Homo sapiens: one gene and its partners. The protein of the gene in region 4 purifies or fractionates together with the protein of the main gene of each other region. This does not show direct contact. Each region holds a gene or a part of one and is shown on either strand. Other genes may lie near its edges.

What was found.
Region 1: the proteins of RFPL2 (region 4) and MIOS purify together in Homo sapiens (affinity purification with mass spectrometry; 3 studies listed by BioGRID and IntAct, with this or other methods). This does not show direct contact.
Region 2: the proteins of RFPL2 (region 4) and BACH1 purify together in Homo sapiens (affinity purification with mass spectrometry; 3 studies listed by BioGRID and IntAct, with this or other methods). This does not show direct contact.
Region 3: the proteins of RFPL2 (region 4) and ZNF507 purify together in Homo sapiens (affinity purification with mass spectrometry; 3 studies listed by BioGRID and IntAct, with this or other methods). This does not show direct contact.

Annotation. Positions count from the first base shown.
Region 1 is NC_000007.14:7,604,844-7,609,433, forward strand, and holds the end of MIOS (GATOR2 complex protein MIOS), read left to right. Parts: intron 1-1,098; coding exon 1,099-1,228; intron 1,229-2,152; coding exon 2,153-2,249; 3' UTR 2,250-4,089; downstream 4,090-4,590. UniProt on the Homo sapiens protein: As a component of the GATOR2 complex, functions as an activator of the amino acid-sensing branch of the mTORC1 signaling pathway. The GATOR2 complex indirectly activates mTORC1 through the inhibition of the GATOR1 subcomplex.
Region 2 is NC_000021.9:29,322,911-29,329,951, reverse strand, and holds part of BACH1 (transcription regulator protein BACH1), read right to left. Parts: intron 3,894-7,041; coding exon 2,559-3,893; intron 466-2,558; coding exon 259-465; intron 1-258. UniProt on the Homo sapiens protein: Transcriptional regulator that acts as a repressor or activator, depending on the context. Binds to NF-E2 DNA binding sites. Plays important roles in coordinating transcription activation and repression by MAFK.
Region 3 is NC_000019.10:32,383,570-32,388,168, reverse strand, and holds the end of ZNF507 (zinc finger protein 507), read right to left. Parts: 3' UTR 502-4,599; downstream 1-501. UniProt on the Homo sapiens protein: May be involved in transcriptional regulation.
Region 4 is NC_000022.11:32,202,047-32,209,544, forward strand, and holds the start of RFPL2 (ret finger protein-like 2), read right to left. Parts: upstream 3,028-7,498; 5' UTR 2,661-3,027; exon of another isoform or gene 2,257-2,660; intron 1,432-2,256; exon of another isoform or gene 595-1,431; intron 505-594; 5' UTR 406-504; coding exon 287-405; intron 1-286.

The DNA of each region.
Region 1 (4,590 bases), on a different chromosome or scaffold from region 4:
ACTAATGAGAGCTTTACACAAAGGTGTAAAGTAGTGTACATATCAGATCTATATTTTATTTATCTCTTCCCCCTTTCCTTTTTGCCCTCTCATTATTAATTGTTGGTGACCCTTTCAGGAGTAATTCTAGTGTGTTTACATCTTTAATCATTGAATTACTTACACATCCTTTCACCTCATATCATTAGCAAAAACGGATATTTTTTAAAACTATTCCCGACTGCAAGATTATCCTTTTGGTCATGAAAGCGTGACCTGCAATGGTCCAAGCAAAATTTTTAACATAGTTATCGATGCATAATGTCTTTATAGATAGCAATTAAGTAAAAATATTAAGTCTAATTAAGCAATTGTTTAAGTTACACAAGTCTCATGAAGTGCATTGGGAAACTTTCTGCTTTTTCTCTTCTTTGAAAGGGCTTGTACAGATGAGAATTACCTGTCCCTTGATAGATTTTTTTTTTTTTTTGAGACAAAGTCTTGCTCCATCACCCAGCCTGGAGTGCAGCAGTGCAATCTCGGCTCCCTGCAGCCTCCAATCCCCAGATTTAAGCAATTCTTGTGCCTCAGCCTCCCAAGTAGGTGGGACTACAGGCATGTGTCACCACCCCCGGCCAATTTTTGTATTTTTAACAGAGACGGAGTTTCACCATGTTGGCCAGACTGGTCGTGAACTCCTAGCCTCAAGTGGTCTGCCCGCCTCAGCCTCCCAAAGTGCTGGGATTACAGGCATGAGCCATCACACCCAGCCCTACCTGTTCCTTGAATGTTAAGTAAAATTCACTTGTAAACTGGGCCTGGTATTTTCCTTGTGGAAAGATTTTAAACTACTGATTTGGTCTCTCCAAAGTTTTAAATTTAGATTGTTTCTTAGTGGGTTTGGATTTTTTTTTCCATTTTTATATTGGCTATTAAAAATGTAGGGGAGCTTCTGTCATTCAGTTTCGCTTCATCTAAACTAGAACCTACCATCAAAATTGCTATTTCAATATGATGTGTGATTCATATTTGGAACACAGTTTTAGAAATGCTTTTTGAAAGTAACTTTAAATAAAATATTATGATATAGTTAATGAAGATCATTTTATTTTGTCATAGGAGGAACCAAATCAGATGAAAAAGTGGACTTGAGCAAGGACAAAAAATTAGCCCAATTTAACAACTGGTTTACATGGTGTCATAATTGCAGGCACGGTGGACATGCTGGACATATGCTTAGTTGGTTCAGGTAATCAGCACATTTCTTCTTTGATAGGCTTGGAGTTATGGGGGATAACACAGATTGCTTCTAAATAGTTTGGGTTTATCTATTAGCATTTAGCCAAAGTATGAATTTTATTTTTTACTGTCACTCATGTTAACAAAGGTGGTGTGAACATGTCGTGATTAGATATCCTATGTAACCTTAAACTATAAAGGTAATACTTATGTAAGAACTAATTTAAATGTTTTGTATGAGTTAAATGTTTGAATAACATTATTTAACTTTATTCGGGGAGAGGATATGTTTACAGTTTTTACACTGAATATTCTGTAATTTACCATGCAATTGAATTACTAATGAAATGTTAAAAGAGCATATCATACCTCTGCCTCAGTTCTCTTCTAAGTAAGCTTTTTATGTAGTCACGCAATTAAGACTGTCAAGACATATTTGAATTTCATTTTGAATGGTGCCAGTGGCCCTGTGCTCCTGGTTGATACAGCATTTATACCCAGTTTGTCTTACTAGCTAATTTAAACTCTGAGCACATCCCTGTCACCTTCACAACTATAAATGAAATATCTTGCCATATATGTAGAAAGTAAAAGGTATGTGTTTCTTAACTTCTCCCTAAACTTCAGCTTGGCAGTAGTTTATAATTTGATGCTTTTGATGCTTTTTTTCTCTGGGTTTTAGTTTCTATATTTTTCCAAATGCCATTTTGAAAAGTTGCATTATAGATAGATATAAGTAAACAGGTGGGCACAGTGGTGCACACCTGTAGTCCCAGCTACTCAGGAGGCTGAGGCAGGAGGATCACTTGAGCCCAAAAGTGTGCGTACAGCCTGGGAAATATAGGGAGACCCTGTCTCTTAAAAAATAAATAAATAAATAAATGTATGTCTGTCTAATTTGGATTTTTAACTGTTATTTGACCTATTTTTTTAGGGACCATGCAGAGTGCCCTGTGTCGGCATGCACGTGTAAATGTATGCAGTTGGATACAACAGGGAATCTGGTACCTGCAGAGACTGTCCAGCCATAAAATGTTACCACCTTAAGAGAACCCTTCAAGTGTGGAGCTTTCTAGTAGGTGTCCTTCATAGCTCAGAAACATACCTCAGAACAAGCCATTCATGACTTACCTGTAATGGGAAAATAAATCATTCTATCAGATCAGCAGTTTTGATGTTTGAGTGATTTTGATATGCTTCACAGAGACAAATGCTGCCAAAATAAACATCGAAGTATAGACATGAGTTCTGTTCAGCAGGTTGAAAAGTCTGATTTAGAAAAACTTTCTAAGTTTTGGTTGAAATTATGAACACTCTAGAAGCAGAATTTCTGGAAGAGCCAAGAACAGACTTTGAGCCTATATCTTCAAAGCTGAAACTGGATATCTTTCAATAAAATATGTGCACTTTTAAAATAAAATGACTAATTCTGTGATTCAGACAATAGTTTTAAGTTCAGCTGTGCTTAGATTTCTTTCAGATTAATTTAAAATTACAGATTTTTACTTTTAGAATTGCAGAGCCCCTATCCCACACTGGAGAATATTTTTTATTACTGTCTGTTATATATGTGTCTATGTGTGTGTGTATATTTATGTGTGTATGTATAAATATGTATTTTTTAAAGGAGCCTTTTCCCTCCTTTGATTTTAAGATAAGCAATCTTTTGGCATAACATTATCGTCTTCCTAGAAAAGCCAAGATGAAGAATCTATCTTACAACTTTTTCTCTTCAGTAGAGAAAAACATGTACCATTTCAGGTGAACATACAAAATTTTCACTTTCTACCTTTTGCCTTCCAATGTCCTGATTTGTCTTCAAAGGTTTTTCTCCATATTAATTTGTCATCTTATCCTCATCACCTGAGAACATTTTACTGCATACAAAGTCTATGCAAGATTATATGTAACTAGCCATTTAGTATAATCTATGTCAGTGTTTCTGTGCTGTCAAATTCCGTCCTGATTTGGAATACCATACCTTGTTCTTTCCAAGGTAGACTAGGAAGTGTTGGGGAAATGGGGTCACTTCAGAGACCATTTTAGATGTAAGTTTTTAAATGTAAGTGTTACTGGGGCTAAGTCAGGTACTTTATTTAAAACATTTTTTTTTCTCATTTCATAGCTAGATAGTTGTAAGAGAAATACAAAGAATTTACAAGATGCTTCTCTGTCATCTGCCATATGCAGAGGGACTGAACTAGGAATTTTGTAGTTGAAGCTGTGTTCATAAAGAGTAAATCTTATTTTATAGATTTTGGAGAAATAAAACAAGAATTTTAAGAGCTTTCGTATTAGCAGTTTTGCCTTATAAAAACTAAGATTTGTCAGATTAGTTTGAGGTGTAACCTAAATATTAAAAGTAGATTAAATTTATTTTTTACCTTGAGTGTCTGATACATAAAACCCTTTTCTAGGAAAACATTGGAAGTAGTACATATTTACTCTAAATGTCTCACCTGCATGACAGTCTTTTCAAATGAAAGACATGGTAATTGCAATTTTTTTTTAAAGATTGCTATTAAGGGTACTTTTTCCAGCCTTCATTTGAGTAAATCTTAATTGATTTCATTTTATTAACATATACCCTTTACCTTTAATATTTCATTTGAAGTGTTCCTTTCAAACTTACTGTCTTAAATATGAAAGTCAGCTTTAAGTAATGTCAGACTCATATGCATTTTCATTCTCATTAGCTAAAGTAAAATGTAAAATTATCTCAAATAGTTACAAGTTTTGGAAATACAGTATAAAACATGAATGTAAAGTCTATTATGTAATATGCTTATTTGTAATCCTAATATATGAGGGTGACATTTTTAAGATTGTATGTATGTGTCAACCTCTTAAATGTTTTCTGTGAAGCCCAAACATGCAGTTTATGTCTCTGGTGTCTGTTTTGCATTTCAGTGTGCATGGACAATCAAATTATTTTCTCATTTTTATCACTAAGTCACTGGTATTTGGGTTTATAAACTCAACAAGATACTTTACCTAAACATGATCAATAGATGTGTTTATTAAAAGTGTTTTTATTATTTTTAAAAGATTGAATAAATCTGGGTTGAAGTCATTGTATCTAATCAAGAAATTATGATTCCTTTACAAATAATCCACGTGAAGTAATATTGGTGCTTTTTTTGATGACAGACTTCATACTTAATATTAGAAGTAACATTCCTTTTAGGCTCTGTTTTTCAATTCAACCCACTTTCCAGAATAGTTATTATCCTTTAAAATGGTATATTTTAAAAGTAGCTTCCCATTGTCAATGCTTCACATAGTAAGTATTTAAAAGAATGTAGTTCTTCATTTAATTAGATGACTCAATTTCAGTCATTCATTTGACTGCAAGTAGTTAAAGCATGGTCT
Region 2 (7,041 bases), on a different chromosome or scaffold from region 4:
GTGCTTTATAATTTCTTGAATCTATTCACAACCACTAATGATTAGGTAGACAGTAAAGTCATTCTTAATTTGAAAACCTTCTTTTTAAAAAGCACTTACATATCACAGCATATCATGGTAAAAATGATAAAATGGTAATTGATACATATTAAAATAAGTAATTGAGCATTATATCTGACCTAGAAATTTAAAAACTATTTCCTTGACAAAAAAGAAAGTGGTGGAATTTAAATAGTAACAAGAAACTTTTACACTTACCAGCTTCTCAATTTCTGATTCAAGATTCTGTATACAGTCAAGTTTTCTCTTGCGACAGCGCTGTGCAGCAATTCTGTTTTTACTTCTTCTTCGAATATCATGGATACAATCCAGCTGTTCTGGAGTAAGCTTGTGCATTTTCAACAAGGACTGAAAATCATTTCGAGACAGTGAAATTATCCGTTGTGCATTGAATGGCAGTTTTACCTAGAATATGAAATAAATATTACTAATTATTGCTGTATTTTATAATTATAGTCAAACCTAGGAAGATGAAGGTATACATCTAAGTTTTTCAGAGAACTTATTTTACATTAAAGAAAACATAGGCCTCTATCCCAATTTCTATACAATCTCAAAAGGATATCTGCACTGATCTACACATATTTTTTTGGAGACAGGGTCTCTGTCATGCAGGAGTACGGTGGCACAATCATGGCTTACTGCAGCCTCAACCTCCTAGGCTCAAGCGATCCTCTCACCTCAGCTTCCTAAGTAGCTGGGACTACTGGCACATGCCACCATGCCTGGCTAATTTTTGTATTTTTTGTAGAGATGGGGTTTTACCATGTTGCCCAAGCTGATCTCAAACTCCTGGGCTCAGGCAATCTACCCACCTCAGCCTCCCAAGGTGTTGGGATTACAGGCATGAGCCACTGTGCCCAGTCTGTACTCCCCGCCATATTCGTTACCGCATTATTCACAATAGCCATGATATGGAAACAACCTAAATGTCCATGGATGGATGAACGGATAAAGAAAACGTGGTGTATATACACAAAGGAATACCATTCAGCCTGATAAAAAGAAGGAAATCCTGCCATTTGCCTACAATATGGAGAACTTGGGAGGCATCATGCTAAGTGAAATAAGCCAGACACAGAGGAGAGTAAATCCAACATGATTTCACTTATACGAAGTAGACAGAACAGTCAAACTCACAGAAACAGAGAGTAGAATGGTGGTTGCCAGGGGCTAGGGAGAGGGAAAAAATGGGGAATTGCAATTGGATGGGTTAAGTTTCAGTCATAAAAGAATAAGTTATAGAGATCTGCTGTACAATATTGTGCTTATACTTAACAATACTGTATCGTACACTTAAAATTTTGTTATAAGGGTAGATCCCATGTTAAGTATTCTTACAAAAAACAAATAAAGCCCAAGAAAGGGGAAAAAATGCAATGGATAAAATAGAAAAATAATTTTTAAAAAGAATGTAAATTGTGATTATAAAGAGAAAAGCCAACTATTGAAAGGCAAAAAAAATCATAAAATATAAAAACAAAAAAAAGAAAAAATATTTTAATTAATATATTTTTGGAAGGAACTAACAGGCCCTTGTCATTATTGGACTTATAAGTAATATTTTACAGAAAGGATCTATCAAATACAAACAGAATATACAAATCAAGCTTGCTTTGATTAATATCATACCAGCTACATGTAACTCATGCTAAATTAAGACATTCATCAATAGTTGAAATGGCCAAAGGAAAATTTAAAAATCAATGGCCATGAAAAACTAGATCCAATAAACTTTACTCCACTAGAAGTCACATTCCTACAACTAATCACTGTTAAACCACTGCTCAGGGACATGTCCCAGGTCTAGAGGTTCTTGTTGGCAATGAGCAAGACTGAATATATGCTGCATTTTTCCAGGAGTTATCAAATAATGAGCATAGAATCATTATTCTTTTTTGTCTTGCAGCATGGCATTTGATTTAAACAATTAAATGGCCGATGTGTGAACACAGCCAATGTGTGAACCTACTTTATGGTTAATATATCTACTGGAAACGAATGAACAGAAGTCCTTCAAACTTCATCTCTCTCTTTTGGTATTTATCACACAGTGTTTTTAAAAAATTTTTTGAGACAGTCTTGCTCTGTCTCCTAGGCTGGAGTGCAGTGGTGCAAACCTGGCTCACTGCAACCTCCGCCTCCCACATTCAAGCGCTTCTCCTGCCTCAGCCTCTCGAGTAGCTGGGATTACAGGCACCCACCACCACACCCAGCTAATTTTTGTAGAGACGGAGATTCGCCATGTTGGCCAGGCTGATCTCAAACTTCTGACTTCAGGTGATCCACCCACACCTCGGCTTCTCAAAGTGCTGGAATTAACAGTTGTGGGCCACTGCGCCCAGCCCTATCACACAGTCTTACAATTAATTTTGTATGAGTTTCCTCCCCACTCCCTGAACCTGATTATATCCCTAATGATGCAAAGGGAGCTGATCCACAGTAAATCCCAATTAATGGTTATTAAAACAATGAATTAAGAACATATTCCTGCTCACCTCACATTCTTGTTCTCTGGCTGAACAGGATTCACTGTCTCCTTCGGTGTCCGTCTCAGAGTCGTCTCCCAAGCTAATGACACAAGCATATGGGCAAGGTTCTTGCTGGGGTTCTGAAACATAATCATCGTTTCCAATTTCCAAATTGCTTGAACAGCCTTCAGTACTCAGAGTACTTATAAAAGGGCAGTTGACAGAACTTAATGTTGTGAAAGTCCTTTGACCTGGTTCTGGGCTCTCACTAATCCTGATACCTAACCACGGACACTCAGACCGTTTCTGTGAGATCTGTTCTGAGCCATCTTTGGCCACAGCAGGTGATAACTGCATTTGGCAAGGAGTGTCCGTGCTGCAAATGTCACTCCAGAAGCCTTTTGCTAGGTGTTCTGCCACTTCTCGCTCCACACTACTCCTATCACTAGATGCAACACTACTATCTTCCCTGGTGCCCAAGTCGGATTTCAAAGGTAAATCCTGACTTTCACCAAATGTTTTTTCTTGGACGTCTGTACCTGACAAAGGCTTTTCTGTTAACACTGTTGTGTTTTGCATACCAGCAAAATTCAAGTCACCATATTGGTCATATGTGTGTAAAAGAGACAAAGAATAAAGTCCATGAGGGTCTATGGAAGAATTGTGGGGGAAAGGAGTCACTTCTGATTTTTCAGTTGGGCACTGAGAAGCAGGATCTTTCTTCGTTTCTTCAGGTTCCATTGCTAATTTACTTTCGTCACATTTTAACATCACCTGCAAATCTCTACACTCCGGGACTCCTCCCAGGCATTCATTTTCAGACCTTTCATTTGGCTGAACAGAAGCATGAATGTCTTTGACACTAGATTCCCCAGTACGGACTCTGTCAGTTCCAAATGCTTTTTGGAATTTTCTGTATTTGGGGCATAAAGAAGGCAAGGCCAGAGCAGCATCCTTCTCTAAGCACATGGACTCATATGTCTGACTGGCACTGTCTTGTAGAGGAGGTGAGGCTTTTGCATTTCCTTGATACCTGCGGAGTTTACACTGAGGAGTCTGAACATTTTTATTTTCCAGAAATTCCTCCACTTCATCAGTTTCTAGATCCCTCTGGTCCAAAAGTGAAAGTTTAAGGTCTGTTTTCTGACAGTGTGATGAAAAGCATTTTTTTCTTGGGCATTCTTGCTGGTCTGCAGTGGAGTCCAAAAACTTAAATTTCAGAAACTGAAAGCAGGATTCCTCAATATTATGTACACTTAAAAACTCCACACATTTGCACACTTCATCCACATTCTCTTTACTTAAAATCAGTTTAGCAGTGTAGGCAAACTGAATTAAAGGTTCAAATCCTTTAACTGTCACCTGTTGATACACAAAATAAAAACAAACACATCATTTGAAAGCTGTCTAGTACATAAAAACAAAATAAGTAGAAGAGGAATAGAGAGATATGTAACTTATTTGTGATAATTATAAAATATGTACTTTAATTTGAAGAAAACATATTCTTCTAAGAAATGTAAAAGAAAAAGATCCTGGAAAAGCATGCTTTTCACAGGGACCACACACTATTTTATAGAGTCCTCTCTTAATTGCACATGAATTATGGTTTACTCACATAAGTTAAAGATGTAAGACATTACCACAATTTTCCCATGATAGTGAAAAAAAAAATCATCTATGAATTAGAGCAGGATGAACACTACCTGCCACACATAGTGAGTCTACTGCTAGCCCAGCTCCACATGGCCACTGTATTCCAAACAACTCCAACTGCTACAAGCTACAAAAGCAGAATTTTAAAGGATATAAAACAGTATTTGTAAAGCAGTTACAAAGTCTTGATCCATGGTAAATGCATACTAACTGGTAACTATTAACTTTACTGTCAAAAATTCCTAACAGTAAAAGTTTTAAAGATTCAGATTTTTAAAAGTGATCTAAGAGAAGTTATAAAAATCATGCCTCGGTACTGTTTCAGCAAAAATTCATGGACTCGAAGTAACAAAACTTTTAAGTAGAAACTTGCACATTTACATTAAACCTGCCTCTTAAAGTGAGAGGCAAATGGAACCAACTCCAGTACACAGAAGGCATCATCCTGGATTAAAAGCACAAAATTAATTTGAAACCACTGAGTTCTTATAAGAGTGGTCAAGATAATATTAATATTTGTGATTTTTTTTTTTCTAAGACGGAGTCTCGCTCTGTCGCCCAGGCTGGAGTGCAGTGGCGCGATCTCGGCTCACTGCAAGCTCCGCCTCTCGGGTTCACGCCATTCTCCTGCCTCAGCCTCCCGAGCAGCTGGGACTACAGGTGCCTGCCACCATGCCCGGCTAATTTTTCTGTATTTTTAGTAGAGACGGGGGTTTCACCACGTTAGCCAGGATGGTCTCTATTTCCTGACCTCGTGATCCACTCGCCTAGGCCTCCCAAAGTGCTGGGATTACAGGCGTGAGCCACCGCGCCCGGCTGTGATCTTCTTAAAAACATAAACATGCTAAACCATGTTTAGGCTTTTTAAAGGCTCCAATAAAAAGCAGTGATACCATCAAATGCTAATGAGAATGCCGATAAACTAAATCACTCACATATTGCTAGTGGGAATGTAAAATGGTACAGACACTTTGAAAAAAACTTTCTTATAAAACTAAACATGCAACTACCATATAACCCAGCAACTGCACTCCTGGTCTTTTATCCCAGAGAAATGCAAATTTATGTTCACACAAAAACCAGTACACAAATGTTTACAGCAATTTTATTTGTGATAGCCAAAAACCAGAATTAGCCTGATTTCCTTCAATAGGTAAAAAGCTACACACACACACACACACACACACACACACACACACACACACACAAGGTACATCCATACTACAGAATATTACTCAGCAATAAAAAGGAATAAATTGCTGATACACACAAGCTGGATAATCTCAGCTAAGTCAAACAACATCAATCCTAAGAGGTAATATACTGCATAATTCCATTTATATAACATTTTTAGAATGACAAAACTTTAGAAAAGGAAGAAAGATTAGTGGTTGCCATGGATTAGGCACGGAGGAAGGGGGCAAGGGGATGAGGGCATGGAGTGTAGGCAGGAGATGTCTGTGGTTATAAAAGGACAACACAAGGGATCTTTGTGTTGGCAAGTTCAGTTCCTTTTTTTTTTTTTTTTTTTTTGAGGCAGAGTCTCTCTCTGTCACCCAGGCTAGAGTGCAGCGGCACGATCTTGGCTCACTGCAAGTGATTCTCCTGCCTCAGTCTCCCGAGTAGCTGGGATTACAGGTGCCCGCCACCACGCCTGGCTAATTTTTGTATTTTTAGTAGAGATGTGGTTTCACCATGTTGGCCAGGCTGGTCTCGAACTCCTGACCTCAGGTGATCTGCCTGCCTCGCCCTCCCAAAGTGCTGGGATTACAGGCATGAGCCACTGGGCCCGGCTGTTATCTTAACTATGGTGGTGGATACACAAACCTTCGCAGGGGATAAAATTATATAGAACTTAACCCGCACACACACATGCTAGTACAAGCAAAATTGTGGCAATCTGAACGCTATGGGAGATTGTATCAATATCCTGGTTGTAATACTATACTACAATTTTGCAAAATGTTATCAATGGCGGACACTGGACAAAGTGAAAAGGAACTCTGCATTGTTTCTTACATCTGTACATGAAAACATCAGTGTGACAGTTAATATTAAATGTCAACTTGATTGGATTGAAGGCTGTAAAGTCTTGTTTCTGGGTGTGTCAGTGAGGGCGTTGCTAGAGAAGACTAACATTTGAGTCAGTGGACTGGGAGAGGAAGACCCACCCTCAATATGGGTGGGCACCATCCACTCAGCTGCCAGCGAGGCTGGAACAAAACAGGAGGAAAAAGGTGGGATAGGTGACTTGCTGAGTCTTCCAGCTTTCATCTTTCTCCCCTGCTGGATGCCTCCTGCCCTTGACATCAGACGCCAGGTTCTTTGGCCTTTGGACTCTCAGACTTACACCAGCGGTTTGCCGAGGGCTCTTGGGCCTTTGGCCACAGACTGAAGGCTCTACAGTGTTGGCTTCCCTACTTTTGAGGCCTTTGGACTCGGACTGGGCCACTACTAGCTTCCTTCCTCCTCAGCTTGCAGGTGGCCTATAATGGGCCTTCACCTTGTGAACATGTGAGCCAATTCTCCTTAACAAACGCCCCTTCATACATACATATATCCTATTAGTTCTGTCCCTCTGGAGAACCCTAATACACTCGATAAAAATTTCAATTAAAATTTTTAAATATGTTAAAATAATCTAAAAAGGTCTTTAGGATAGTGAGTTATAAGGTATTTTGACATTGTCACTATAATGAAACACTTCAAATATTTGAAAACTTATGATTTACACATTAGAAAGAATGAATGAATGCATACACACATGCATGTATGCACATACCTTTCCTCCTAAATCCACGAATCAAACTTTGCTTTACTTGTAAAGTCTCATTCAATAATTTGAAAATATGAA
Region 3 (4,599 bases), on a different chromosome or scaffold from region 4:
GCTTTAAATATCAGCGATGGAATAGGTTAAAGTCATAAAATATGGTTAAAATCTGTAGACAGGTAGACTATAAAAATTACAAAGGAAGAAACTAATTTAGTTATAAAGCACTACTATAAAAAGCTTTCTTTGTAAAAAGCCGTTTTCTTCCTGGTAGCTCTAGAGCACAAATTATACCATTGTTCTAGTTCAGAGGTCTAGTCAGAAGACTTTTTCTATCAGATAGGTGGTAAATTAGGTTTTGTGGGCCATAGAGTCTCTGTCACAATTACTCAGTGCTGCTGTTGTACCTTGAAAATAGCCATATATGATATGTACACACACAAAAGCATGGCTGTGTGCCAATAAAACTTTATTTGCCAAAACAGGTGGCAGGTTGGCTTTGAAGAGAGGGCCCTAGTTTGCTAATCTCTCTTCTGTACCAGCGCTGTCCAAAAGAAATATAATGTAAGCCACATATGTAATTTAAAACTGTTTAGTAGCTAAAGAAACAGGTAAAACTAATTTTAATATTTTATTTAAACCAAAATATCATTTCAACATGTAATCAATATAAAAAACTGTTAATACATTTCCATTCTTTTTGTACTAAGTCTTTGCAACTGCTATGTATTTTACACTTAGATATTATAGTGGCTGCCACACTGGACCATACGTTCTAGAGCTTCCATGCTCGGATTCTTTAATTTGGAGGTTAGTGACACAGTTTCAGATTGGGTTTTTCAAAGACAGGGGATATGATTATGTTGTCCCTGGGAAGCATGGGACGAAATATTTGGCCTTGGTCACTTTCAACTGAGGTGACCCAGGATTCTAGGGCACAAATGGATAACCAGACCCACGATACAGTCAGATGATGTTAGCTTCGTCAATGCAACAAATATGTCAATAGCTGTCTGTATAGACGACAGAGTGATCAAGGTGTGAACATATCACTGTAGTTTTTGGCCTTCACTAAGGAATGCTAATTCCTTCGTCAATAGCAGAACTAGTCTTTAGCACTTTGACTATATCAGAATTGAAAGCATATAAGCGTGTCACATTTGGAAGAGAAACTGAACTGGGTAGCAAGGAAAAAAGCTTCAAAATTAGACTTAATTTTTAAAATGATTTAAAAAGCTAAATGCTTATTCAGTTTATCTTCGTGTAACAGTCTAATGCTAGTCAGCAACAGATTAACAAGTTATCAAGAGTCATCATAACCTTCATTTAACTCTTGGGAAGCTTTTAATTATTTACAACTTTCTAAGCAATAAAGTCATCATTTCCAGGAAAAGAATGAACACAACCTGTGGTTAATAGAACTTGGAGCCAAGTTTTTTTTAACAAAAAATTTATTACCAAAATACAATATTAAAGTCAATACATGACAAACTCCTGTAAAGCAAAATAAATTATTCTAACATTGTACAGTATTTCCAAAGGTAGTTAAAGAAGCACTACAGACCTTGCCTCACTGTTCTGAACAGATGAACTGCTCTCCCATGAACACAGTCCTAGAGTTTCCGCTTTAAGGCATGCAGCTTGATGTGCAGGATAATTTTACAAAATGCAAATCATCCTATTTTAATAAGATACAGTGTCAGAATTAACTGTAGTCTTTACATGTCAGTATTCCAGAAATTTTTATACTTTGGCTATAGAAGCAATGCCATAGTGTTACACAATACTTATTTCTTAAAAAAATACATGTATTCATGTTCATGAATATCAAACGCAAATTTCTATTAAATATATTTTATCGAATATTACTTAGAGCACCTTGCTGTACAATTTAAAAAGATTAAATAAGTGTCTATGAAAACTAAAAACACAATAAGTCTCAACAGAGAAGCCTGCTTGTCTTTGTCAAGCCAATTACAGCACGGGAAGGTGCAATGTAAACATGGATGCCCACCATTTACTTTGTGAGAAAAAAAACAGAAAATTATGAAGCCACCAGCAGCCACCTTCAATAGGAAGAAAGATCCAGAACAAAGGCTTCGGTCGGTGTCACAACATTGCACTATCTGGCCAAAGAACTTGGACTACCGATCAAATGGAATATTAGCATGATACTGTTGAACACTGGGACACCCGCCATATTCTGGATGATTAGAGAAAGGGAGAAAATGATAGAGCCCTGAAAAGTATTCTTTATAATGATCAGAATGCATCATCTTCCCCCCTCCCCACCTTTGCCATATGTAGTTTCTTTTCAAAGCTATTTTCACTATCACGTCTTAGTATTTTTTAAGTGTTCGGAGCAGAAAACAAATACTATGAGCTCTGTCTAATAAGAAGTCAATACCAATAAATAACATGTTATTCTATGAAGGAATTCCTACTGAATTTTTTTTTTGGGGGGGGAGGTAAACAGAGGACCTCATCTGTCACCCCGGTTGGAGTGCAATGGTGCCATCACGGCTCACTGCAAGCCTCTATCTCCCAGGCTCAAGTGATCCTCCCACCTTAACCTCCCAAGTAGCTGGTGCTACAGGCACGTGCCAACTATGCCTGGCTAATTTTTAATTTCTTGTAGAGACAGGGTCTCCCCGTGTTGCCCAGGCTGGTCTTAAACTTCTGGACTCAAGCAGTCCTCCAGCCTTGGCCTTCTAAAGTATTGGGATTACAGGTGTGAGCCACTATGCCCAGGCTACTGATTATTTTAATAGCTATCTCTTCTACAGTTAGAATTGCATAATCTTCATTATTACTTTTAGAAAACTCAATTGTTCTTGGTAGACACATTGTTAACTTAAGGCTTGCCACAAAATGATAATGGGAAGGGAAAGAACCTCCTTGATATATGCTTCCTCCTATCGGCCAGGAGAAAGCTTTTAAGGACAATTCTAAGGCCAGAATCAGATGAAACTTTAAAGGCTTTGAACTTCTGGGTTAGTTTTTTCCCCATGAGGTGGGGAAATTTTAAATCCATGATTCCAGGTGGAAAATTTAAGTAACAATCAATGGAATTAGTTTAAAGAAATAAAGGTAATTTAAAAATTCACATCATTGAAATTTTGGGGATGCTTTTCATTATTATTTTCTAAATATGATATAAAACTAAAGCCAAGGAAATTTTCTAAGACAAAATCCTTCTAAGGTTGTTGATTTTCAGAACAACAGATTTTTATAAAGAAATACTGAGTCATTGTACCAGCAATGAAAAAACTGACTTACAATATGAGTGGCAACAGTATGGGTAATAATAATGAAATCATTTTAAATGTTCTATTTGAATTTGAAATTAAAATGTTTCAATTCCGAAAAAAGGAGAAAATGAATATAAGTCCACATACAGTGGATTTGAGGAATATAGTATATATAAATCCATTTCATATTTTTAAAAACCACGTATCAGAAATGGATTAACTTTCATAAATAAATTAAAGCTACCTAAATAAAAAAGCTGCAAAGTTACAATCATTTATGTTTGTTTAAATATCACCAAAATGAGATTAGAAAGAAAGAAAAAAAAATCAGAAAATGTTGCAAGATGCCTGGCCCCACTTAAATAATTCCTAATAATAATTTTATAAATATTAATCCAATCATACCTGGACTTTAGGAACAGAATACTTCTTAAAACGTGCCTACAGCGTATCCCATTCGAAAACCTTTACAGTGTTCCAAGTTGATCGGTCACAGCCTCATCCAGGTGTTAGAAATCAATATTCAGATATTCGGAAATAGCACCGTGAGGATGGTGCACAGAAGAGCGCACCGACCTTTTCACTTGTAGGCAGAATTTACTTAAACAAAACAATGCATAAATGAGTAATCAGAACTACAAAAACAAAAACACCCTGTTTTCTTCACTCCTTGAAATAATTAAAATACAAAATGTGTAATTAATAAGATTACATCTATTTGATGGTGAGTTTTAATGCTAAAGCACTTTGTGTTGGTTTTCCATATGTCCTATCGCACTCTAACAAAATAGAATTTCCAGATAGGAAGAATCCTATAGACTTGCCAAATGCTATTTGTTATTAAAATTTTTACAAACAACCTGAATTTCTGCTATATTTTAGTCACATTTGGTTATATTCCTCTTCTGCTAAATATAACTAAATTAATATACCCCAGGAAAGAAAAGCTCAACACAGCAGTACTCATTTTCAGGAGCTTTTAAATTTCACCCCTCATCCCCTAAGGGATTTTTGGAAATAGTTCAAACTATTTCCAATGCCGGATGATCAAATGTAAATTTTCATACATTGTTTCTTTCACACACTTTCAGATAACAAGTGTGGTTTCATTTAGCAGAGTATTAGAAGGTCTACGTACTATGGAGAAAGTATGCCAAGTTCTGACAGACACTGAAAAGAACCTCTGAGAACACGGAAGACGATTTAGCATTACTACGAATTGAGATCTGGTTTGAGTCTGGTGAGAATTCACCTGTTTCGTCCTCTGCTCACAAGAAATTCATCGTAAATTTAAGACAATACTTCTTGAATGCCTATTTACAATCTAGCTTTGAATTTAGAGATCTTTCCTTTCTTTTTTAAGGAGTAAAGGAACATGTCCTAGATTGAGTATGATTAATTTCTATCAATTTAGGTATTTCAGTAGATCATTTCAAAGCCCTCTAATTATGTTTCCTTGTTGACT
Region 4 (7,498 bases):
GGGCTCTGAGACAAATCCATTTCCAGAACTTTTCCAGCTTCTAGAGGACGCCCCCAGCTCCTGGCCCTTTCTTCTAACTACAAAGCCAGAGCTCAGCATCTTCAGATCTCTCTCCTGATCTTCTCTCCCCCCACTTTCTGTCTTCCTCTCCCTGGACTCCCCTCTCCTTCTCTCTCCCTCCATCCCCACATCTCCTCCTCTCACTGTGACCCTCCTCCTGCCTTCCTCTTTCCCTTATAAAGACTCCACCCTGGAGCAATGCGGAAAACCCAGAATTGTCTCTCACCTCAGGCTCCTTATCACCATCATGTCTGCAAAGTCCCAGTGGCCACACAATACAGCACATAGACAGATCCTGGATTGGGACACTGCAGTCTCTGGGAAGCCTAATTCAGCCACCTCCATCGGAGGCAAATCATGGTGCCACAGGCTCTAGCCTCCAGCCCGTGGCATGTAGCTCCTTCTCAGGGCACTGGGCATCCGGGCAGACAAAGCCAGAAAAGCCTAGAACAGGATGCAGAGTGGTAACATTAGAGCGCACCTTGTCATGCTGGCCACTGGGTGGCAGGGGCCGGTTTCAGCGAAGGTACTCACACCCACACTTCAAAGTCCAGCCTCTCCTTTTAGCGCAAGCTGGCCAGGAACTGCGGCCTGGAGTGGGGACTGCAGACACCACAGTGCCCGGGCTTCCCACTCCACAGGAACAGCTGCAGCCACCCTGGCTGCACTCCTCGGGAAGCAGGAGCAGCAGAAACTCAACCCCAGCCAGCCCTCCCCACCCAAGTGCCGGTTCCCGTTCCTGATGCCTCCTCCACCCACAGGGCCCTGTAGCCTCCTCGTGTCCACTACTGCGTGCCCCGGGGTCCCAGGCGGTCTCTGCAACACAGAGCAATAGGAGGCGGGTCCAGGAAGCACCACGGGGCTGGGGCCCCTGCCGCGCTCAGGAAATGCTGTGCGCCCGCCGCACTTGAGCAAGAACAGGAGGAGGTGGCCGGGAAGAGGAGGACCGCTCCTCTCTTGCAGACCACCGCTGTCACTGACACCTCCACCGCCCGCCACCGGCAGTGCAGTCCCAGATGGCGCCCCTAACTCATCCGTGCCTAGTACATGCAGCACCCAATGGCGCTGGCAGCCTGCCCCCTGCCACGGGCAGCGCAGCCCGGGATAACTCCCCAAACCCGCTCTGTGCTGTGGGCAGTGCAGCCACGGATACCACCCTCAACCAGCCCCTCGCCACAGGAAATGACTCCCGGGATAGCGCCCCAAATCAGCCCCCAGCCTCGGGCAGTGACGCCTGGAGTAGGTCACCCAACCCAACTCCTGCGCGGGCAGTGCAGCACCAGATAGCGCCCCTAAAACGCCTCCCGCCACCGGCGGTGTAGCCCAGGATAGCGCCGCCAACCCGGTACTCGCCGCGGCAGTGTAGCGATAGGGCACCCAATCTGCCACCCACCGCCGGCAGTGCAACCCCAGATAGCGCACCGAACTCACTCCCTGCTGGGCAGTGCAACCCCACATAGCATCCAACCCGCCTCCCCACCCAGCCACTGGCAGTCCGCCCCCGATAATGTCCCATACACGCTCCTGGCTGTGGGCAGTGCAGCCCATGGGTAGCGCCCCCAACCAGCCCCCAGCCATGGGGAGTGATGCCTCGGATAACACACCCAACAAGTTCCCCACCATGGCACTGATGTCCCAGGTAGCGCCCCCAATCCTTGCCCCTCAGCGACCAGTGCAGCCATGGATAGCGCCCTCAACAAGCCCCTCCACTGACCCCCGCCGCTGTGGGAAATGACGCCCGGGATAACGCACCCAACCCTCCCCCGCCATGAGCAATGCAACACGCACTACTGCTCCTTACACGCCCCCCACTACATGCGGTGTAGCCAACGATGGCGCCCCCATCTCCCCCTCGCCTCGGGCAGTGTAGCTCCCGATAGTGCATCCAACCCATTCCCTCTGCCCCTCTCCTCCCACCGAGTCAACCACCGCCGGCAGTCCAACCCCAAATAGCGCACCCAATCCACTCCCTGCCAGGCAGTGAAGCCCCCCGATAGCACCCAACCCGCACCCCCACCCCCGCCACTGGCAGTCCGCCCCGATAACGCCCCAACACGCTCCTGGCTGTAGGCAGTGTAGCCCATAGATAGAGCCCCCAACCAGCCCCCAGCCAAGGGCAGTGACGCCTCGGATATCACAGCCAACAAGTTCCCTGCCATGCGCACTGATGTCCCAGATAGCGCCCCCAACCCGTACCCCAGCGCGACCAGTGCAGCCACGGATAGCGCCCCCAGCAAGCCACCCCGCGGCTGCGGGAAATGACGTCCGGTAAAGCACCCAACCTTCCCGTGCTGTAGGCAGTGCAGCACCCAATACTGCCCCTAACACGCCTCCCACCACCGGGTTGTAGCCCACGATGGCGCCCTCAATCCGCCCCCGCTCCCACCTCGGGCAGTGCAGCTCCAGATCGTGCATCCAACCTGTCCCCCTCCCCGCCCCCTGCCGCAGGCAGTGAGCCCTGGATAGCTCATCCACCCCGCCACCTTTCTACATTCTGGCTGCGGTCTAGTCTCCCTCACCGCCACCAACGGCAGCGAGCCGAGCCATGCTGCTGCAGGCTTTCAAGCCTCCAGCGTGGGACAGGTGACTCCTCCTCTAACCTGGGCATGGAGCAGATGGGCTGGCAGACGCAGAAGTGCCTGGAATGGCAAGAACCCCTCCCCCCACAGACCGAGGTTATGCAAGTAAGGTTTCTGGACTACATGTTCAGATTGGATGAGAGAAAAACCTCTAGGTCTACTCTGATTGTGCTTTATTTTCACGTTCTGACTGGATGACAGCAAGTCTTAGGATAACCAATCAGAACAAGATAACAAAGCCCGATCAGAGTAGGCCTAGAGGTTTCTCTCATCCGATCAGACTATGTAGTCGAGAAACTTCATTTGCATTAAACTCAGTATATAAAGGATGCCAAGAGGGGTGGCTTGCCCTTCCAGGCTCATCTGCGTCGGCCTGCGTAGCTGCTCTGTGCCCGGCTTAGAGGAGAAGGAGGAGGAGCCACTTGCCGCGCATGCCAGAGGCTAGAGTCATCTACCGCGCATGCTGGAGGCTGGAGCCTACAGTGGCTCACCTCGCTGCTGCGGTTGGTGGCCGCGAGGGTGACTACAGCGCAGCCAGAATGGTGAAAAGGTGGCAGAATAGGTTCGTTATCCCAGGCCGTACTGCCTGTGGCGTGGGGGGCGGGTTGGGGGCCCTATCCAGGGCGTCACTGCCCGTGTTGGGGGGCTGCTTGAGTGTGGTACCTCGGGCGTCACTGCCCGCTGAGGGGAGTGGGGTGGGGGCGCTATCCGGGGGCGCTATCCAGCCTATGGCTGGAGATGGGTTGGGGCGCTATCCGAAGCTGTAATTCCTGCGGCAGTGGGGAGTTTTGGGGGCACTATCTGGGGATGCACTGCCCGCGGCCGGGGGGCGGGGGTGAGTTAGTAGAACTATCAGGTGCTGCAATGCCCTGATGCCCTTGTTGGGGACAGGTTGTGGGGGGCTGGTGGGTGCAACACTGCTGGTGGCGAGGGTGGGTGCTGCTATCCGGTGCTACTCTGCCTGTGGGGGACGGGGGCGGGCGTGATATCCAGGGCATCATTGCCTGCATCTGGGAGCTGGTTGGGGACACTATCCATGGCTGCACTGCCCACAGTGGGGAGCGGGTTGGGGGCACTATTTGGGGCTGCAATGCTGGTGGTGGGGGACGGGTTAGGGTCACTATAGGGTGCTACACTGCTGGCAGTGGGGAGGGGGTTGTTGAGGGCGCTCTCTGGGGGCTACACTGAGACAGGTAGCGGGGGGTTGTTGGGATTGGTACCGGGGCTGGACTGCCCATGGAGAGGGGGTGGGGGCGTTGGTTGGGGGCGCTATTGAGGGCCGGGTACACTGCCTGCGGTGGAGGGGTGGGTTGGGTGCTATCAGGGGTCTGTACTGCCTAGCAGGGAGCGGGTGGGTGTGCTATCTGGGGCTGCACTGGCTGCAGCAGGGGCAGGTTGGGTGCACTATAGGGGGCTACACTGCCCTTGGCAGGGGGTGGTTTAGGTGAGCTGTCTGTGGCCGCACTGCCCGAGGTGGGGAGTAAGTTTGGGTGCTATCTGTGGCTGCACTGCCTGGAGGCAGGAAGTGGGTTGAGGGTGCTATCCTGGGCTGCTTCTCCTGGTGGGGAGCAGGTAGGGGCACTATCCAGGGTTGCACTGCCCGGGGTAGGGGGCGATTTGGGTGCCATATCGGGGCATCACTGCCCACGGCAGGGGTCTGGTTGGGGTCGCTACCCATGGCTACACTGTCTACAGCCACTGCCTACGGCAGGGAGCGGGTTGGGGGCGCTATCCCGGGCTGCGCTGCCCAAGGCAGGGGGTGGGTTGCGGGTGCCATTGGTGCTGCAGTGTCCGAGGCAGGGGCGGGTTGGGGTTGCCATCTGGTGCTACACTGCCAGCTGTGGGGGAGGGTCGGGGGCGCTATCGGGGGCTGCACCGTCCCCCTGGTGGTGGGCAGCGGAGGTGTCAGTGACAGCGGTGGTCAGAGGAGGTGAGAGGGACTCCAGTCTCTAGAGGGCCATCTCCTTCTGCTCCTGGCCAGCACACAGCATTTCTGCGGGGATCCTGAGCACGGCCCGGCCCCTAGACCTGCTGTGGTTCCCAGGCGCGCGCCCTCTCACCATGTGTTGCTGAGACCGTCTGGGACCCCTGGGCACACAGTAGCGGACATCATGGAGTGACAGGGCCCTGTGGGTGGAGGTGTCAGGAAGAGGTACCGGCACTTGGGTGGGGAGGGCTGGCTGGGGTTGAGTTTCTGCTGCTTCTGCTTCCTGAGGAGCGCAGCCAGGGGTGGGCCCAGCGATTCGTGCCGAGTGGGAAGCCCGGACGCTGTACTGTGGTGTCTCCAGTCCCCACCCCAGGCCCCAGTTCCTGGTGAACTTGGGCCAAAAAGGGAGGCTGGGCTTTGGAGGGTAGGTGTGAGTGCCTTTGCTAAAACTGGCCCCTGCCACCTAGTGGCCAGCATGACAAGGTGAGACTCTAATGCTACCACTCTCTGCATCCTGTTCTAGGCTTATCTGACTTTGCCTGCCCAGTTGCTCCGTGCCAGGAGGAGGAGCCACTTATTCCATGCTGGAGGCTGGAGCTGGGGGCACCGCAGCTCACCTTGCTGTGGTTGGTGGTGGCGATGGAGACTACAGAGCACCAGAGCGGTAGGAGAGCAGCAATGGAGACTGCAGAGTGCCAGAGCAGTAGGAGGGCGGCTGGCTGCTGCCTGGGCAAGGGCAGGCCTGCTGTGGTATCCAGGTGGTAGGAGCCTTGTAGGGTGGACCAGTGGACTGAGGGCAACAGGAACAGTGGTTGTATTGGCATCAGTGCTAGTGGTGGCAGCAGCAGCAAGTCTGGAGGTTGGGAAGGCGGGTAGGAGCGCTCCAGGGCTGACCCGCCCGGCTGGGCCTGGCCTGGGGTGGGTAGGAAGCTGTGGGCCTCTGGGGCAGCGGTGGAGGCGCAGCCTGGGGAAGGAGGAGTCTCCTCCGCTTCTCCTGCAGAATCTGGAGGGCGCCCTCCTCCTGGTAGGTCCTGAGCCAGGCGTGAGTGGCAGCATTGTGTCATTATTAACAAAGTTTGGGTAGTGACTATTTGTGTATCTTTTTGCTTGTTTTTTGTTGGGATAGTCTTGGGCTTTTTTAAATTTCATGAATCAGGGAGGGGACAAAAGCTGTAATAGGACTCCTGATTCCCTTGTCTGTTCTTTTTCTTTTCTTCTCCTTATCATCATTTTCTTGTTCCTCTTCATTTTCTTATGCTGCTGCTTCTATTTCTTGTAGCATGTGGAGGAGGGAGTGGGAGATAGAGACCAGGCCCTCTCTAGAAACAGTCACATCCTGGAGGAACGGTGATGTATTTTCTGATGAGGATTTTCATTCATGAGATGTGTGCAGAGTGACCCTGGCTAGGTGCCCAAAAGCCTCCTTGTCTATGGTGTGACTCCAGGCCCAGGAGGCAACCCCGTTTTTGTAGAAGAGCCTGTCCTGGAAGCATCTGTCCTGAGAGCACCTGATGGCACAGTAGGGAGCTGAGAGCAACTGAGTCAGGAGGGACAATGGCCAGCCCCTCCCAGGATTCCTGCCTTGGGCAGATGCTGGCCCACTGACTTACAGCCCAGGGGCTGACAGGGGTGTCTTGTCCAAGCCACTGTGGGCAGGTGTTGCCTAGGCAGTGTGGTGTTGGATGACACCGAAGCTGCTGCACAGCCTGGGGTATTCATCTCTGGCAGACTGAGGGCCAGGTACTGCACATCCTGAGGTGTTCATCCCTGCCAGACCGAAGGCCACGCCCAGGCAGCTCCCCATCCCCTGCCACAACAAGGCCTCATTTTTCCCACAAACCAACTCCATGCACCCATCCTCCAGGCCCCTGAGTATGCCAAGCACCAGGCCCGGTGAGCCCTGGTCTCTCTGTGCTGCAGCCACGCACCTGCCTAGGGACCTCCTCCTCACCTTCCTGCCCCTCATGCCAGTTATACCCCACATGCTGTGAGGCTGAAGTCAAGCAGGGAAGCAGCAGAGAAGGCATGGAGAGCGACAAGCCCCACAGCAGGGTGTGAAGGAAGGCCTCTCCAGGTCAGTGTCCTTGTCTAGCCCCCAGGCATGTGCTGCAGGCATTTGGGCCCTTTACTTCTTCTTCCAAGGGAACCACAAACAGCCCTGGGGTCCAGGGGGTTATTGGCCAGATCTCCAGAGAGTGACTCCAGGGTCCTGGTCTCCAAGGGAGAAGAGGGTTTGGGGAGAGGCCTTTGGTCAGGCATGTGGCGCATGCTATTCCTGAGCAGGTCGGGCAGCTGGTGCTTGCCTGGCTAATGCAGTTTCTGCTGGGCCTCTCTTCCTGGAGGAGAGTGTGGCCTCTTTCCCAGCTGTCTTTTAGCCAAGATGCACAGAAAGCAGACCAGAGATGCAGGTCACAGCCAAAGCAAGTGGCAAGTGGTGCTGCTTCCCAAGGGACATTGCCGTGGCTGTTCTGTGGCTCTGAGATGCTTGGGGTGCCCACCTGGAGCTGTGAGCTGGCCTGGCAGGCCTGGGAGGGCCCTATGGGCTCTTTTGAAAGTTCACTTTTGTTGAATTTTACATAGAATCTTCCCATGTCCACTCCCCAGTACTCTTTTCTGCTGTCCCCAGACAGTGCCAGCAGAGGCCACGTGCTGTCTAAATATGTCCGCAGGCACTCAGTGCAGGGTCCTGGCCTGAGGGGGCATGAGGCCAGCATCCCTCACTTTAGGACCGGGAAGTCAGTTCTCAGGCTTCCAAAACAGCTGAGACAGCTGCCACTTCCTGTCACTTAAGCCTGGTCTCTGTACCTCACTTTCCTTCTGGGACCTCAGTGCCTTCTTCCTACAAGATACTGGTGTTCACGTCACTAGCTCTGGGACTCGGGAGGAGACTGAGGCACACAGATGATCAGTTGTAATCACATGGACTCAGGGT